Regions from separate parts of the Homo sapiens genome. Here region 2 is linked to region 1. The links come from fine-mapping of genetic effects on gene expression. A gene starts in region 1. The other region holds a variant in brackets. All regions are shown on one strand. Distances are from middle to middle.

Region 1 (11,088 bases):
CACTTAATGGGTATCTCCTATATATGGCCACTCTGCCTTCAGTCCTACCCCCTCCGATCCATTATCAACCCGGCCATTAGGGTAAACATTCTCAAATAGAAATGTTACAAAATCATCTCCCTTGCCTCTTCTGTTTCTATTATATACACTCTCCCCTGGCTTAGAATCCTTCAGTATCTTCCCTTGAAAAAAAAAATCAAATCCTAGCTCTTTAATTGGGCACATGAAGCCATATTTTAACTTATGCATCACTTGCCACTTTTTGCCTTTTGTTTACTGTTCTCTGCTTCCCACAAAATGGACTTTTTTCCTATTCTCTCTTCTTTTTTTTTTTTGAGACACAGTTTCACTCTTGTCATCCAGGCTGGAGTGCAATGGTGTGATCTCGGCTCACTGCAACCTTCACCCCCCGAGTTCAAGTGATACTCCTGCCTCAGCCTCCCGAATAGCTGGGATTACAGGTACCCACCATCACACCCAGCTAATTTTTGTATTTTTAGTAGAGACGGGGTCTTGCCATGTTGGCCAGGCTGGTCTTGAACTCCTGACCTCAGGTGATCCACCCACCTCAGTCTCCCAAAGTGCTGGGATTACAGGCGTGAGCCACCACACCTGGCCTCTTATTCTCTCTTCATACTCAGCTTTCTTTCTTTTATGGCTTTGTTCATGAGCTCTCCTCTGACTAGAATGATCCTCCTGTGATTAACTATTAATCCTATTTATCGTATATGTCTTGGTTTAGTAATTACTTTCTCCAAGCTGGGTTGAGTGCCTTTCCTCAGTTCTCATAATGACCTCTGCCTATAGAAATTACTGCTTTTACCACTTGAGTTTATAATAATCTCTTTATGTTCCTTTCTCTTTGGAAACAATGACTGGTTCATAATCATCTTTGTACATCCTGATGTCCAGCATAATGCTTGGAATATATTAGGTACTTTAAAAAAGGCACATTAAATAGATGAGTGAATAAGAAATCAGAAATTTTAGCTGATAACATAAAGATAGGTGCCTAATAAGTTTTGTCCCCTAAAACAAACAAGATAATTAAAATAGAAAAAGATCATTTCCTTTATACTGAGAATAGGAACTTGAAAACCAATAGGGAAGACTTTCTGTAGATTTGCAATATATTAGATCTCTACTGGCATTGTTAGAGTTACTTCTGTAGGTCATTTTCTTCTGATTTCTATATTTGTTTTGGATCTTAATATGCCTTCTTGAGTAGAAAAATGAACATATAACTGGTCTATGTTAATTTTATTCTGATTAGCAGTTACTTTTCATGTAATTACATGGTTTTTACACTATAACATAATCCATGAATTTAGGTTTATTACCTACACCTTTTAGGGTTCAATCACCCTGGATAAATTTGCCAATTTCCTCATCTGGCAAACTGAGTGGTGTGATCAGTACCAAGATCCCCTTCAGCCTTAAAATTTCTGAATTTATATTGTTAATTAAAAAATAAAAATAAAAATTCAGTGTTGTATTTATTTGGTATTAATCAAAATGCATGGGGACTGTAGAGACACTGTTATAACAAATTCTAACTTTACATTCTTCACAAAAATCTTGAGGGAAAAGAAAATTGTCCATTTTTTTTGAATCATGGCTTCTTAGGGAAACACAGGAAACGTGAGAGGGGCATGAAAAAAATATAGAACTGAGACAAAATAGTAGGTTTACTCCAAGTTTACAAGTAGCAATATTTAATGCTTTGGTATAAATCGTCTTTATTACAGAGAACAACTACCAAATAAATCATTGTGTGGAAAAGAATTGATTTGGGAATCAATTGTCTGGGAAAGAAAATCACAAAGAAGTGATTGTGAAGACATTCATTTGTTCTTCAGATATGTAACTGTTTAATCTGAAGTAAACTTTGGGATGGAAAACTATTAGGAACGTTTCTTGCTTAATTTTGCCATTGTACGCTCTGATATTGATTGTTCAGGATTATTGAGCACACATGCTGTAATGAGAATTGTATATAATTTACTATATATACTTACATATGATAGACATTAAAGGATATATGTGTCTAGTAATAGCAGATGCATGTTTCTGCCCACTAAAGAAATGGTTGCAGCTTTTAATAAATATGGCTAAGGGAATGATGTTAAGATTACGTGTGTGTGTGTGTGTGTGTGTGTGTGTGTGCATGCACATATTGTTCTGGATTTCAAATGAGTATACAAAATTATCATTATCTTACACCACTTGCATTGGGATCTTCAGTTTTTCCTTCAAGAAGTGAATTATTAATAATATATTTAACTTTTAGAGTATTATTGTGGTAGGACTCGCCAGTTTCTTGCTACAACATCTATTCATCCCTTTCTCTTTAGAAACAAACTAGAATTTTTATATTGCTTCCCATAATAAAAAACATATTGCCTTCCAGATTTTGCAGCTAAATTTGGCTATGGGACTAAATTCTGGCCTTGAGTTGTTTAAGAGAGATACTTGTGAGAGTTCTCTGAAGATTGGTCAAAGGAAACTAACTCAGATGGAAGATCCATTTGCCCTCCTGCCTTTCCTCTTAGCTTTTAGCCTGAAAATCAGTGGTGATGGCTGGAGAGCCAATAGCCATCTTGGAACACGACGTGATTCTGAAGGTGGGAAGCAAGGCTGGGATGGTACAGAATAAAGATAGGAACTTGGGTCCTTGAGAAAATTGTGGAGCCACCATATCTACCTGTAATTCCTACTTTCAGACCTTTTTCTATGTGTGAGAGATTTATCTTATTTAAGTCATTGTTATTTTTGTTGTTAATACTGTTGTTGTTAAGCTAGCATTCTAGTTGAGCCCAAGCTAGGACTCAGAGTCTGGTTATATCTGATGAGCCCCTGGATCAGCATCCCTCAATGCCAACTATTAAATGTAATGGGTTAATGATGAATGGAACTCTATTTCACGTAACAAAGAACAACTTGTTATGCCCAAATATTACGAGGTCATATTGCTCTTATTTCTCTCTAACCTGAGATTTGGGTCCGTGTTCTCTATGAGAAATTAGAAATTTCTGTTGTGGTATTCTGTTTTTGTGTTAGGATCGTCACTGTAAATCTACTTAATAGTAAAAATAAAATCTTGCTTGGAATTGTGAATTAAATGAATTCTCCATTGTGCAGAAACAGGAACAGCATTATATTTTGTATGTAATACTCTTAAACAGTCAATTCATTTATTCAATTAATATTTTTGAGCTATTATGGGTTACATAAGTTATGGAGGGGCTTTGTTATTTAGTCAACTCATGTCCAATATCACAGGGGTCAGTTGTGAATTTGGAAAAAATAGAAGAAAAGAAAAATTAAAGCAAATGACAAAAGTCTAAATATTTTCCTCAAATAATTGTCTTTTTTTTCCTTAATGTCTTGTGTTTACAGACTGGAATTTAAGCCGCATTTTTCTAGATGGCACCAGCCTATTGGTACATATATTAATGTCAAACAGTAATGCTCAAATTACACGGGTTCACAGCTGTTTCTACATAATTTCTTAAGTATTCTTGCCACGAAGTCTCCCCCTCTTTTCTGGGAGACCTGGGGGAAGGGTCTCACATGTCCTTATGACCGGTTTGCTCACATTACTCACTTACTAGCCACCCTTGTGCTTACAAGATCCTTCATGTAGGAGCGCCACCATTCTGTCTTATGTCAGGATCTTCCAGTAGAACACTGCTGTCCCGTAATAAGGCCATATACATGTTCTTTCTAGGTTACAATTTCCCACACTGCTAACTGATGCTGCATTCACTTTAAACTGCACCCTACTGGGGACTGACTTGTTCTATAGAAATGAGGTGACTGTTTCTCTAGCCAACTCTGTCAGCTTGAAGTACTACTGCTTATGTCCTAAAATCTCTTATGGAAACATTTCTTTGTCTTCTTATTTATAGTCCTGAAGCATGCATCTTTTATTGTGCTTTATCTCTTGTGTCTCTACTGGAGGCACCCGGGGTTTGAAGTTTTATCCCAGCAGTTATTTATTCCCCGTGCACATTTACTTTTTCTAATAATTGGCAGGGAGGACTTCTACTGCTCCATCAGTTTATGAGAGAAAACCAAACTGAATCCGAGTTTCAGCTCAACTGGGAACCCTGCTACACCAGAACTTAACCTGGATTCCAGATTGCTTGATAAAATAGCTAGTTGATGATAAGCTATAATTTCTTGACCACACACACACACACACACACACATGCGTACATATGTACATACAGCAGTTCCCTTCATCCACAGGATATGCTCAAACCCACAGTGCATGCTTGAAATCTCAGAAAATACTGAACGCTATATATACTATGAGTATTCCAATACATACATACCTATGATAAGTTTATGAAGTAGTCACAGTAAGAGATTAATAACAATAACTATTAATAAAATAATAACAATATGCTGTAATACAAGTTATATAAATGTGGTATTTTTCTCTCTCTCAAAATATCTTTTTGTACTATACTCACCTATTTTCAAACCCTGGTTGTCCACAGGTAACTAGAACCAAGGAAAGTGAGATGGCAAATAAGTGGTAAGGGATGCTACCGTATCTCACATACATATATTTCAAAATACGTCAAACCATACACCTCAAAACTTGTAATTTATATCAACATGATATGCTTGATACCATAGGCAATGCCATTTTCTCATTAACTCATCTCTTTCAGTTGCAAAACACCATATAAAAGGAATGGCACATGCTATAACATGTATTTTGGGTATTTTACATTTATCCAGATATGAATATAAGTAATATACTTAGTTATAATGTTCCCTTAAGCCACTGTTTTGCTACATGCTTCTACACATTAATTCTTTTAAAATTTATTTTAAAGGTAACACAGTTTTTTTCTTTTACAGTCTCCCCTTAGTAAATGTAGCTACTACGACTATGAGTAAAAGAGATATGGATGGGTGGAGGAGATATGGAGAGGCCAGCACTTTTGTAGATAAATGCAATGTGAAAACAAGGAACTACTCTTTAATTACTGGCACAGAAATAATGACAAGGAAACAAAATTACTTCCTGAATCACACTTTATCACCTGACTGGTTGCAAAGGCACATTTTTTTTCTGTTTTCGTCAAATTAAAATCTTAACCATGTAAATTCAAGGCTGTAAAGGAAAACTCAGGATCCTTCATAGTAATAATTACAGTATTAAAATTCTTAGTTGCTAGAAAGTGGTTAGAACCATTGAGAAACATTTTATCAGGTTACGTGGTTAGAGCAAGATTTGAAAAAACAAAATCAAAAACAAAAAACCCAATGTAAAATATCAGAACATCTGAGATGTCCAAGCTGAAAAGTGTAATAAACGCTATCAACTGTAGTGGAAAGAAAGTTCCAAAGTATGAAGTCCAGAGCAATTGTTGGTAGCATGAGTGGTGGGATTGAAGTAAACTGAAATAAATGGAAGGCATTTGTTTAACCTATGATATTGCTGAAAGACAAGTCCCAGCACAGTAGCTTTCTCCTTTAAAGACTAGCCAGATGTCGGCCTTTTTAAGAGCACAAAGAAGGGAGCCACAGAAAGAGGTAACAATGCTGGTAGAGAATGGCAGCTACAGTAAGGTTGTTTTTAAATGGATAGAAATCTATGTAAAGGTGACTCCGACAAAACACAGTAGCTGTCTCCTCCTCAGTCATTTAGGCAGAAACTTGCACTAAGTAAAAAGGTGCAAGGTATTTATCAGCAATTCCCATTATCTGGTACTTTTATTGCTTTGGCATGATTAGCAGAGACTGTTTGGCCAGCGTTGTCAACTATTTGCTTTTTCATCAGCCTGATGTTTGGTCTGCAATCCCTCTAAAACTAACAGCAAAAGAGAAACTCGGAAACTTGGGAAGTTTCAGTTGGCATTCAGATGTCACCCCAGCCTACTCTCTGTGAGATTTATTCTGCATTTTAGAAGCTCAGTGGCTGTTGCTCTTTTTGATAGCCAACAAGAAGCAACGTCATAGACCTGTTTGGCTGCTGTCCTGGGTAGAAGGGTTTGGCAGCCCTAGGGAGATGAATTTCTCCAGCGTTGGACCCGCCCAGAGCGGAGAAGCAACACCCTTCCAGCCACTACTCTGTTGCTATGAAACAAAAGACTAGGAAGGTAAGCGAAGCAGGAAGTCCCGCCTTTCAGCCCCAGATGGCTTTGGCTCCCGGTCCCGACGCTCACGCCCACCTGCCACCCCTTATTGGTTAGCTCCTTCGTGCCTTGCATCCCTTCGTCCATTTCCTTTCCCGTTTCCACTTTCGTTCCCGGGAGAGTCCAGGCCCCTCATTTCTCTCCGAGTCCAATTCCTTTCTGACGTGCTGCGAGCGGGCCTTCCTCTGGGGCCATTGTGTACTGTGGAGGACGTGGACGGGGCGGCAGCGCGAGGAGGACGGGCGCCTCCCGTCCATTGGCTGCACCCGCTGTCGGGCAGTGCGCGGTTGCGCGGCATTGGCTCAGCGGCGCCCGGCCCCGCCCCCGCCCCGCCCCGCCCCGAGCCTGGGTCCTGTGTGTGCCACAGGGGTGGGGTGTCCAGCGAGCGGTCTCCTCCTCCTGCTAGTGCTGCTGCGGCGTCCCGCGGCCTCCCCGAGTCGGGCGGGAGGGGAGAGCGGGTGTGGATTTGTCTTGACGGTAATTGTTGCGTTTCCACGTCTCGGAGGCCTGCGCGCTGGGTTGCTCCTTCTTCGGGAGCGAGCTGTTCTCAGCGATCCCACTCCCAGCCGGGGCTCCCCACACACACTGGGCTGCGTGCGTGTGGAGTGGGACCCGCGCACACGCGTGTCTCTGGACAGCTACGGCGCCGAAAGGCAAGAAGGGAAGGGGTCGCCGGGGAGGCTCCACACTTCTTGCCGGCCCGGGGGCCCGGGGTAGCCAGGCGCGGGCCAAGGAGGAAGAGGGGACAGCCCTGGCTCTCAGCTGCCTTTGCCGCCGCCGTCCAGTTTGAAGTGGGGCATTTAAAGACCAGAACCCGCAGGCCGGGGAGGAGGGAGAGGGCGTCCAGGCAGACGGCGGTGAGGACTGCAGCAGGCGGCCGGGAGGCGCGTCCACCCAGGCGCCGAGCCCACAGTGTCCCTCCCGCGCCCTAGACGGACGGTGCTGCGGGCACGGGAGGGACACTTTGTCCCCTCCCAGTCCACCTTCCTCCTGCAGCTCAGACCCGAGGGGCCGGGAAGGGGCCTGAGCAGGGAAGGGACACAGGCGTCCTGAAACAAAGCTTTGGGTTGAGGGCAGAGGCGAGGAGCCAGAGAAGTGAACTCCTCCTTTCCGTGGCCGCTCTTGTCATTTTTCTCTTTTCTCTTTTCAAATGGGCTATTTGTGTGTTAATTTCATTTGGTTCTTGGGAATAACGACTCACCGCGTTGATTTAAAGAAAGGTGTTCGTGTGTCCGTACTTGGTGGTTTTAGTGTGGGACATGCCCTGCGCTTTTGTTGACAACAGAGCTGTCCCTTACGTTTGTGTAGGATAATCTTTATGTTTATGTAACTTGGAGAAATCTAACAGAGTGAAAGTGAAGTTTCTGCGTAAGGCTCCCAAAATGTATGATAGGACCTTCAGTTGTTCTGGTATTTTGAATTGGAATTAAGGCAGGAGGGGAAGAACATTCTGTTTTTATCTAGGTGGGGGAAACCTGTTTAAGTTTTGTTTGTTCTTTTTTTTTTTTTTATGAGTTGAGTATTAGTTCAGCCTTAGCTACTTGAAACGTGAGCAGGATGCATCTTTAACTCTTAGTATTGTAAAAGCAAATCTAGGATCACTGCTCTTAAAACTACTGTGTGTAAAGATTGAGAGTGTAAATTCACAAGCTTATTGATAAAGATGAATCCGGAACTTTTGGTTTTGCTCTAATCGATGGAGGAAGATGCAGTGGTACAAGTTAGTCTCTAGTTTTCTGGTGGGTAAATATTTTCAAAACCAACTAACTTTTCTTTTTTTAAATCTGCCTTTTAAAGAACTAAAATTCCAGATGGCAAACTCAATGAATGGCAGAAACCCTGGTGGTCGAGGAGGAAATCCCCGAAAAGGTCGAATTTTGGGTATTATTGATGCTATTCAGGATGCAGTTGGACCCCCTAAGCAAGCTGCCGCAGATCGCAGGACCGTGGAGAAGACTTGGAAGCTCATGGACAAAGTGGTAAGTTCTGTCTGACGTTGCCTGTGCGAAACACTATTCACTTTGTCTGTGGTTTCTCCAGATTTATTTATACTGTTAATTAATACCAACCATTGTTATGGCAACAATCTTTTGATTTCAATTCATCATTTTTCTTCAACTCTGTGTTTTTTGAAAAGTTGGATTCAAAGACTTTTTTGTTTTTTAACCTTTCATCCTTTCTACTCTTTAAGGTTCAGAGTTCCTCTACATGACTCAGTATGTAAAGTTTTACCATTGGCTGCTTTTTGTTGGTGTATGGCCATAGAATGCTTGGAAGTGTTTGTTCTGTCTTCTGTGAGGTTGTGTTGCTCTTAGATAACAAAAGAGTACCAGCAGGTTATTTAAGTCTTTGACCACTCATGACAATCATCTGGTATGATACTGAAAATATTTACTGGGGAAAGAAACAGATTAGTTCTTAAGTGAAGAAGCAGTAGTTGAGGGAGTTTCCATTTTCATCTTTGAGAATTCATCTTCATTAAGAAACTTTTTTTGTTGTTAATGGGAGAGTTAACAGTTTCTTTCATCTACTATTCCATTTTGAAACAGGAAACCTTTCGATGGCACATTGTTTATTGTGAAAGGAAAATTTATGTTGGGGGTGGTGAGGCTGAGAGTATCAGAAACCTCTGTGGTTTCTGCATGTTGCTTTCAGACAAACTATAATTTCACAAGAAGAAATCATGATGGGTGTCAGTATCCAGAGAAGTCAATCTGAATACCTTACAGAGATTTACTCAGAAACTGTAGCTGTCAGTATCCTACCTTACTAAGTATGATTATAAAATAAATTTAAGATGTAGCTTGCTGCTTTGCAAAAATTAATAATTCTTTTTTTTGAAGCAGTAGCACTGTCCTGGATTTATTAGTAAATGTTTGGAACACATTATGACTTTATTTCATAGATATCTGGGGCCAATTATAAGTTTAGTTGAGGCAAGACTCAGTATCTTTATAACTGAAGAAATGGAGGTTTTAAAAACAAATTTCTGTGTAAGGATGTGCCAAAGCATCCATGAAATCATGTGATAACATTCATCTTTGCTTTGATTTGCTCCTGTCTGTAAATATTGGCTATAAAAGCCACTATCAGTAGTAGTAGCAACATATGAATGTGACAAGATTTCCATTATTTTCATTTATTCTGATGGAAGGGACACACAGATGAATGACTGGCCTGTCATTCTACAGGCAATGGTGCTAAATGCAGAGCCAGAATATTTTTGCCAGATAAATAGCCTTAGTTTTGGGCTTCAGTGTGACCTATTTACGCTTCTGCCAATTTATTCAAATTGTTATATTAAAGTGCTCCAGACAGAATGATGTCATAGTGTCAGAATATTGCAACTTGCTGCTTGGGGTTCAGTTTTGATTTTAGCATTGGATACTTTAGAATAAGGACTATTCAATTGGAAAAATAGCATATATTTGTCAAGCACAATGCTGCCTATCTTGTCTTTGCTAAAGAGTGTGCATTTGAAGGTCACTCTCACTGCCTAAATCATTAGTTGGGGTAAGAGAAGGAATTCAAGGTTTTTCTCTAACTTATCTGCTACGTAAGTGGACAGCAAATGGTTCAGATTCTATAAAGGGGCTGTTCTTTTTCCCCCACCCTCCAACTTTGAGTGGTCAGTGTTTGTACATTTGTGTTAGGACATCAAATCAAAAAGATTTATATAAGGATGTGGTGAGCTATAGTTACTATAAAATCATTATTTTTGAAACATTAAAAATGATGTACACAATTTTGGTCTGTAACTGGTTGTTAACATAAGTTTTATTCACTTTTAATTATTTCACCATGAGTTATGGTAAAATAGATGGTTATTTGATAGTTAAACATCTGCTATTGTTTATTTTATTAACCCTTCTGTGGGTTTAGGTTTAGTCTCTCCAATTGAGAAACTTGACCCAACAAGGAAATCTATTATCAAAAGTCTCTACTTAGTGGGATGTGGGTGCGGGTGTTGGCAAATGTACATTGCCTGTTTGTCTTCATTATTTGTCAAAGATGAAAATGGTTGTGTTCATTTGTGAATGTACCCAGGGGCTTTGTGGAGAGAAATTGCATAAATTATTATGAAAGAATTCAGTATGTTTATTTTTACTGTAAGATACAGTAAATAGAAAGGCATTGATAATTACTAATTGGCAGTATATAAGTGTGTAGTACAGAAACATCCCCCTCTTTTGTTTATCTTTTCTTATTTGTTAGTGGTGAAGGAAGTGGCTCATAATATCAACATTGTCCTGATGATTACATCAGGAACTTTATTATTAGTTCTGAAGTTAATCCCTTGACACATTACCTTTTTAAAAAAATAACTGCAATAGCATGAATTTAGTTTGTGAATAACAGAAAATAGCAATTTTCAAGTCTAATTGGTAGGTATGTAAAAGGCAGAGTTAAGTGTATAGTTAATATTTTTTTCTTATGAAGCCTCTTTGCAAGGGTAGATCTTGGAAGTATAAATATGAACACAAGCTTCAATTTCAGTGTGTTTCAGCTACCAATAAAGTAAAATAACTATTTTTACAGGGAATAATGAAGCAGTCTTGGGTTGTAGGGGAAATATCTAGTGAGTATGTAGTTTTACCATTTCTTGGCCTCTGGAATTTAAAATGGTCAATTGAAATTCTTTCCAATTAATGTTCTGTTTTCAGAGGGCAGGCTTTTGCTCTAAGGTCACTGAGAATAGGAGAGCGTAATTGCTCAGTTGTGTTCCTTATAAGATGTAGAGTGTTTTGTAACAGAAAATCAGTAGCACAGAGTTAGCATAGTCTATGTTTTGAGGAAAAGAATAGTAGATAGTAGCATATCCCAAAACATCCCATTACAGATTTTCTGGCCTTAGCTCTGTGTATGTGTAATTTGATAGCCGACCCAGAAGCCCTCACATCAGTGGATGCTTATTTGATACAGTGATAGA
Region 2 (8,000 bases), 100 kb after region 1:
TGGGAGCTTTTTGGATGAATCTTGAGGCTTTTCTAGGTATATGATCATATCATCAGTGAATGATGACAGTTCGACTTCCTCTTTTCCAATTTGGATGCTTCTTCTTTCTTTTTTTTTATTGGATTGCTCTGGCTGTGACTTCCAGTACTGGGTTGAATAGAAGTGGTGAAGGTGGGGATCTTTATCTGGTTACAATTCTCAGGGGGAATGCTTTCAACTTTTTGCCATTCAGTATGATGTTAGCTATAGATTTGACATATATGGCTTTTATTACTTTCGGGTAAATCTCTTCTATACATATTTTGTTGAGGGATTATAAAGGGGTGCTGTATGTTATCAAATGCTATTTCTGGGTCTATTGAGATGATTATATATATTTTTAAAATTTCTGTTTATGTGATGTGTCACATTTATTAACTTACATATGTTAAACTGTCCTTGTATCTCTGAAACCCACTTGATTGTGATGTATTAGTTTTTTGTTGTGCTGTTGGATTAGTTAGCTAGTATTTTGTTGAGGATTTTTGCATCTATGTTCATCAGAGATATTGGTCTGTAGTTTGTTGTTGTTATGTCTTTTCCTGGTTTTGATATTAGCATGGTAGTGGCTTCATAGAATGATTTACGGAGGATTCCCTCTTTCTCTGTCTTTTAGAACAGTTTCAGTAGGATTAGTACCAATTTGTCTTTGAATGTCTGGTAGAATTCAGTTGTGAATCTATCTTGTCCTGGACTTTCTCTGTTTGCATTTTTAAAATTACTGATTCAGTCTCACTGCTTGTTATTGTTATTGGGTGGCAGTAAACCTTACCCAGCTCTCCTGCAGTTGGTGAGGCTGATCTCACTCCCACAGTGCTCTGCTAACAATGCTTGGTTTAGATCCAGGTAGTCTATAGACAGAACTCAGACCTGCCCCAGGTCATAAGCTTCTCCACATAGAAAGCTGCCATGGCTTTCAAAAAGCCATGCCCCTCTTCGTCTTCCCAGGCATGGCCAGGCACCCAGCTCCTATGCTCCTGTCTGCAGCACACTTCCCACTTGCCGCAACTCCTCCCTCCCCATTCTGTTCAAGGGAATTTGTTCCACTCGAGATTATATTACAAAATTCAGTTGGGAGGTTCTTTCACCCTGTGTCCTTTCCCTGAGCTCATTGGCTGACTTCCAGAGGGTCCCTGTGAGATATATTCAGGAATAGCTTCCCTGGGTTCATGCTGGAGATTGGGAAGTCCTGCTGCGGCTCCTACTTTTTTATTTCCCTAAATCTGTTCCAGCTATTGGAAGGGTGAAGGGCTTCTCCAGTGGCCTGGATTTTCAGATTCCCTGGTGGGGATGTGTACTTGGAGGCAGACTCTTCCCCTCTCGCACTCTGAGGACTTAGGAGTTTTTCACCTGTCTCACGTAGTAGGCTATAGCCTCCCAATTCTTTCACAGGGTCTGTGGATTCTGTTTTCCTAAGTTCCTGTGTTGGTTCTTTGGGAAAAAATTCACACTGAATCTCTGCACATTATTCTGTCCTTCCAAGTGGGAGAAGCATGCTGACACTGCCTCCAGTCTGCCATCTTGAAAAAAAAAAAAAAACAAAAATTAGCATTGAGAAGATTTAGACATAAATTTCCAAACAAATTATAATTCAATTAGAAACACAGATTCTAACTCTTGAATCTTCTTACATAGCCTCTCCTCTCCATACATAAAATTCTCTTCTTCAAATTTAAATTCATGCTCTGCATTACCCCAACAACCTTCTGATTAGTCTCCCTATCTCCAATAACAACCTATCCTATTGTTCTTAGGGGACCAGTGAGCTGTCTAAAAAGCAGAGCTAATCATTCCAGTCTTTCGCTTGAAGTGTTTGCATGAATATTAATTCTAGGTTAAAGTCTAAAATCACATTAAACATCACAAGCTTTAGAAACTTTTTCGCTGGCTTCTTTTTTTCTACTTATCATTTCGGTATACTTAACTCATCTGCAAAGAAACAACTCAATACTGTTCATATTTCCCAATGTGTGTCTCATTTTTTACTCCTCATTGTCTTTGTTTTCGTATGTTGCATTCACTGCTTGGATAGGCAGTCACCCATGCTCTATCCAGTGTTGCCACTTTGAAAGCTTTACTTTAGTACCCTAATGGATATCCCTACTCTGTGCTGCCAGGTACCTGAGCTCACATCTGTCAAAATATATTACAGTGAACTGCTGACATGCCCCCATTTCTCAATTGAGAGGTTTCCAATAGACTGGAAAGTTTATTTGGAAGCAGAGACTGCATCTTACTTATTTTTGTGTTTTTGAGCCTGACACGTTTCCTGGAATGTTTAGGCAATAATAATTTTTTTTTTTTAGGTGGAGTTTTGCTCTTGTTGCCCAGGCTAGAGTGCAATGGCGCCATCTCGGCTCACTGCAACCTCTGCCTCCTGGGTTCAAGCGATTCTCCCTCCTCAGCCTCCCAAGTAGCTGGGATTACAGGCATGCACCACCACGCCCGGCAATGTTTTTTTTGTATGTTTAGTAGACGTGGAGTTTCTCCATGTTGGCCAGGCTGGTCTCAAACTCCTGACCTCAGGTGATCCACCTGTCTCAGCCTCCCAAAGTGCTGGGATTATAGGCATGAGCCATCACGCCCGGCGGCAATAATTGTTAACAGACTACATGAATAATTGCATAGATGGACGATGTCTATCCTCTACTCTCAATTTCCAATGACTTCATTATATATAAATTGATCTCTTTTTAAATGATCAGTTCCTACATTTCTATTCCTTAGATGCCTCTCTTCCCTCTTTCTTTTCATCTGTCTCAGAATTTTGACACCTTTCTTTAAGTTCAGTTCATAAGTCCACTTTTCTGAGTTTTTCTCATTCATATACACCCTTCTACGTGATCTATGTTAATTACTCTATACTTTGGTTGCTGTTGTATTTTAGACACATTTATATTGTAAAATGTGTTTACTATGTAGGTCTTTCTTGCTTGATTGCAAGAGTCTTCAATGACTTTCTATGCAAAAGTTGGTGAAAACAGACACATTTATTAGAGTTATTGTATGTCAGATTTTGTGTTCAGTGCTTTCACATATGCTAGCCTCATTTTCAATATAATCTTTAAACTACTTTGTAAATGGTTGTTGAATGAGTCTTTTACGTACCATATACATTGTAGACATTTAGTAGTTATTAGTTGAATGTATGAGTATAGGATGCAACTTTTCTGCCATTTAAGCTCTCTCTTCCTTTACTTATGTTCTGTTCTTCAGTCAAATTGGCTTATTTGGCTCTTTCTGGACACATCAGCAATTATAGGTTTCTATGTCTTTGCTTATATTGCTCCTTCTACTTGAAGATTTTTATAATCTCTGGCATAACAATTCTTACTAATCCCTCAAAGATAATATTGCTCATAATTTTTCCCATTAGTGTTATTACTAGATCTCTTCTTAAACTTCGCTAAGCTCTGGCTTATCTTCTGCATTTACTATTTTTATGGTTTTATTACAAGTATTTGTCTAGTTGTCATACTTCCCCCTAGACTATATGCTCCATGAAATCAAGCTTATTTATTCATCTTTGTATTTCTAAAGTAGCTCAGCACAATGTTTTATATACAGGCTTTCAGGAACCATTGTACATTTAATTCAGATGAGTTGAGAAGTAGAGGAATGTGCATTAGCATGTGTATGTGTGAGATGGAGCCTGCTTGCTTGATTGATTGGGAGACAGCATACTTAGGGTTTGGCATGCAGGCTCTGCAGCCAGATTATCTGTCCCTGGACAGGTTCTGACTGCAACATTTACTCACTTTGTGACTTTGGGGAATCTAGTTGGTTTTTCTATGCATCTTTTTCCTCATTTATAAAATGTAGATGATACTAATAATACCTACCATCAATGGTTGTTATGACGGCTTAAAATAGCTAAACCTTACCTGTAAGGCACATAAAACTGTGTCTAGCATATAATAAATATTCTATTTTGTGGAATAATTAACCAATTGAAACCTTTAAAAGTGGTCCAAATTCTCTAAATAATGTAATTTACATTTGACTTTGTATGATGGAAGTTTCATACTCTGTAGCAATCTAAAAGCAAAAAAAAAAAAAGAAAGAAAAAGAAAAATTTTAAAAATTATTTTATGTGTATCCCGAGATGAAGGTAGAATTGAAAATAAGAAACTGTCTTGGTTACCACAGGGGGAAAATGGTTTATTTATAGCTCAATTTATTGCCTCTATGATTGATTTCCTGCAAAAGCAATAAGGGCCTTCTTTGGTTTCCCGTATTTTCCTTTCACTTTTAATATGAAAGAAAGGAAAATACTTTCTTTACCTTTCCAGCGAGTGAGATATATATTCTTCTAGCATATTAACTAGCTCAGTTTTCCCTCTAGGTAAAGAAAACACAACCTAATTATATTAAATTAAAAGAAGTGGTACACAGTAGAAATTAAGAGTTTTTACAATGAAAATTTTTAGCAGATACTCTAAAGAGAAAGAAAAAAGAACTAAAGTAGGATTCAAAGAATCACTAGTTAATATTTCTACTAGTTAGCTACCTCCCTTTGTTGCCTGTTAAAAAAAATTTCAGGTATCTTTATGTCAATAAGGAAAATAAAAACTTACATATCTATTGGAGGCCTATTTTGTTCAATTCATTGTAACAAGATACAAAACAACTAAGATGCCAATTGTAATTTTCTACCTGTAAGCAATATTCAGTTTGGGGAAGACAGGATATAAAAAGAAGATAAATACTTAAAATCAGCTCTGTACCATTAGAAAATCACATAAAGAATATCACAAATAATAAATTAATTTACTAGTACATGCATACCTCAGAGATATTGTGGGTTTAGTTTGGGACCACTGCAATAAAGTACATCGCAATGAAGTGCATATTGCAATAAAGCAAGTCACTTAGATTATTTTTGTCTTCCTAGTGAATATAGAAGTTGT[A/G]TTTATACTATACTGTAGTCTGTTAGGTGTGCAGTAGCATTATGTCTAAAAAAATATATGTACCTTAACTAAAAAAGAATTGCTAAAAAATGCTAACAATCAGCTGAGCCTTCAGTGAGTTGTAATCTTTTAGCTGCTGGAGAGTTGTGCCTCGATGTTCATGGCTATTGACTGATCATATGCTGAAAGTTAAGGTGGCTGTGGCAATTTCTTAAAATTAGGCAGCAGTGAAGTTTACTACATCAATTGGTTCTTCCTTTCATGTAATATTTATCTATAACATGCAATGCTGTTTGATAATATTTTACTCACAATAGAGTTTCATTCAAAATTGGAGTCAGTCCTCTCAAACCCTGCCACTGCTTTATCAACCAAGTGTCTGCAATATTCTAAATCCTTTATTGTAATATCAGCAGTGTTCACAGCATCTTCACCTGGAGTAAATTACATTTAAGAAAGCACTTTTTTGCTTTTCTATAAGAAGCAGTTTTCGTCTGTTCAAATTTTATGAGATTTGCATCAATTTAGCCACATATTTAGGTTCTACTTCTAATTCTAGTTCTCTAGCAAATTCTACATCTACAGTTACTTCTTCCACTGAAGTCTTGAAATCCTCAGAGTCATCCATGAGATTTGGAATTCACTGTTTCCAAACTCCTGTTAATGTTGATATTTTGACCTCCTCCCTTGAATCATAAATGTTCTTAGTGGCATTAGAAAGGTGAATCCTTTCCACGAGGTTTTGAATTTTCTTTGCCCAGAGCTATCACAATATATGACAGCTATAGCCGTAGGAAATGTATTTCTTAAATAATAAGACTTGAAAGTCAAAATGGCTCCTTGATTCATGGGCTGCAGAATGAGTACTGTGTTAGAAGACATGAAAACAACATTAATCTCCTCGTACATCTCCATCAAATCTTTTGGGTGATCAGGGGCATTGCCAATGAGCAGTACTATTTTGAAAGGAATTGTTTTCTCTACACAGCATATCTCAACAGTAGGCTTAAAATATTCAGTAATCCAGGTTTTTTGTTCCATTTGTAGAGCACAGGAAGAGTAGATTTAGCGTAATTCTTAAAGGACCTAGGATTTTTGGAATGGTGAATGAACATTGTGTTCAACTTAAAGTCATCACTTTTATTGGCCACTAACAAGAGTCAGCCTGTCCTTTGAAGCTTTTTGTTTTTTTAAATAAAGAACAGAAATTTATTTCTCATAGTTCTGAAGGCTAGGAAGTCCAAGATCAAGGTGCTGACAAATTGTCTGGTAAGGACCCACTTCCTAATTTACAGATGGCCAAACATCTTTTTGCAATATCCTCACATGGTAGAAAGAGTGAGCAACTATCAGGGGGCTTTTGTTTTTTCTTTTTCAACCTTTATTTTGGAGGTTATTTAGGGGGTACATATGCAAGTAATTGCATATTGCATGATGCTGAGGTTTGGGGTATGATTGAACCCATCATGTAGCTTTGAAGCTAGGTATTGACTTCTCCCTAGCCCTAGCATTTTCTAGATAGCATTTTCTTTCATCTTAAGGCTGTTTCATCTACATTAATTATCTGTTGTTTTGTGTAGCCACATTCATCAATGATCTTAGCTAGATCTTCTGTATAACTTGTTGCTTCTACATCAGCACTTGGTGCTTCACCTTGCACTTTTATGTTAGAGAGAGCTTCTTTTCTTAAACCCCATAAACAAATTTCTGCTAGTTTCAAACTTTACTTCTGAAGCTTCCTGAATTCTCTTACCCTTCACAGAATTGAAGCGAGTTGGGGCCTTGTTTTGGATTCGGCTTTGGCCTAACAGAATATTGTGGCTAGTTTGATCTAACCAAACCACCAAAACTTTCTCCATATCACCAGTAAGGCTGTTTTGCTTTCTTATCATTCATGTGTTCACTGAAGTAGCATTTCTAATTTCCTTCATGAACTTCTCCTTTCCATTCACAACTTGCCTAACTGTTTGGTGCAAGAGGCCTCACTTTTGTCCTATGTCAGATTTAGACATGCCTTTCTCACTAAACTTAATCATGTCCATAATTAGAGACTTGTGACTATTCCTTTCACTTGAGCACTTGAGGTCATTTTAGGGTTACTATTTGGCCTAATTTCAGTGTTGTTGTGTCTTAGGGAATAGAAAGTCCCCAGGAGAGGGAGAGAGAAAAGAGAACAGTGTTGGTGGAGCAGTGAGAACATATACCATTAAGTTTGCTGTCTTACATGGGCATGGTTCATAGTGCCCAAAAACTATTTGTTTCACACAAAAAATACTGTTTTGAAACTGAAAAACTGGGAATGATGGCAACAATAGATATGAATTGTGATATGACAGCAATTGGCTAGACCTGTGTGCCAGCTGTTTTTCTTAGATAATCTCTCTTCTAATTCATCACAATCCTTTCCTGGACATCTTTACTAATTTATATTATATACCTGGTCCCCAGATATTTGATTTTTTAATATCTGAAAGCTATTTGGAACCACTGGACTAATAGTGTGTGCCCCTGGATTTATAGAGGTCCTGGTCTTAATCCTCTAAACATTTGTTCTCTTCTCTGCTGGATGTGTCTACTTGGGTCAATAAAGAGAGAGAAGGTCTCCTTCTAGAGCAAGGATCTTAAAGCCTTGTAAAATAGAGGTAGTATTTCTCCCTGGGTCAAAGGATATGCATTATCCATTACAAAATATTTGGGTTCCTTAAGTTCTAGGTTCTACTCCAGAATCAAACCCACAGTGTATGCAGATGTCACCTGGCCCTCTTTGCATCTTTTAGGAGAATTTGTGTTTAGGGAACAAGGGCAAGAAAATGCTGGTACTCTAGCCACTGCTCTTGCTGTGAGTAACAAAGTCCTTTGACTCTGACCCAGTCCTTTGACAGAAACCCAGTATCTTCTGCCACTATACATGAAACTGTGATAGGCCAACTTCTTAGCTTGCAAGAAGAGTAGAATCTCATTCTTTGGTTTTTTAGGATCATGTTCTGCTGGTAGAGAAAGTGTGACTTAATAGCAAAGTAAATAAAACTTACTTATATTAGTCTGTTCTCA

Which allele goes with the higher level. Alleles are on the strand shown, and positions count from the first base shown. SD is a standard deviation of normalised expression in the study named.
With allele G in place of A in region 2, the expression in non-classical monocytes of the gene that starts at base 6,535 in region 1 is higher (large effect, 0.87 SD a copy in Schmiedel 2018).

What was found. PIP is the estimated chance that this variant, and not a neighbour inherited with it, causes the effect.
Region 2: its variant is the best candidate, but not a certain one, in a credible set for the expression of CBLB in non-classical monocytes (Schmiedel 2018, PIP 0.81).

The regions. Positions count from the first base shown.
Region 1 is chr3:105,864,459-105,875,546 of GRCh38, reverse strand. CBLB (Cbl proto-oncogene B) reads left to right here and starts at 6,535. Exons shown (of 19, transcript NM_170662.5): 1 at 6,535-6,811; 2 at 7,956-8,137. The coding sequence starts at 7,970. LOC105374024 (a long non-coding RNA gene) reads left to right here. Exons shown (of 3, transcript XR_007095990.1): 3 at 1,749-1,983. RefSeq lists a silencer at 6,337-6,566 and enhancers at 8,324-8,413, 8,534-8,583, 8,614-8,663.
Region 2 is chr3:105,763,661-105,771,660 of GRCh38, reverse strand. The region is part of intron 4 of CBLB (Cbl proto-oncogene B); the gene reads left to right. Among named protein-coding and RNA genes, the nearest start is that of CBLB, 100 kb to the left of the region's middle. The variant A/G (reference allele first, on the strand shown) is at 4,950.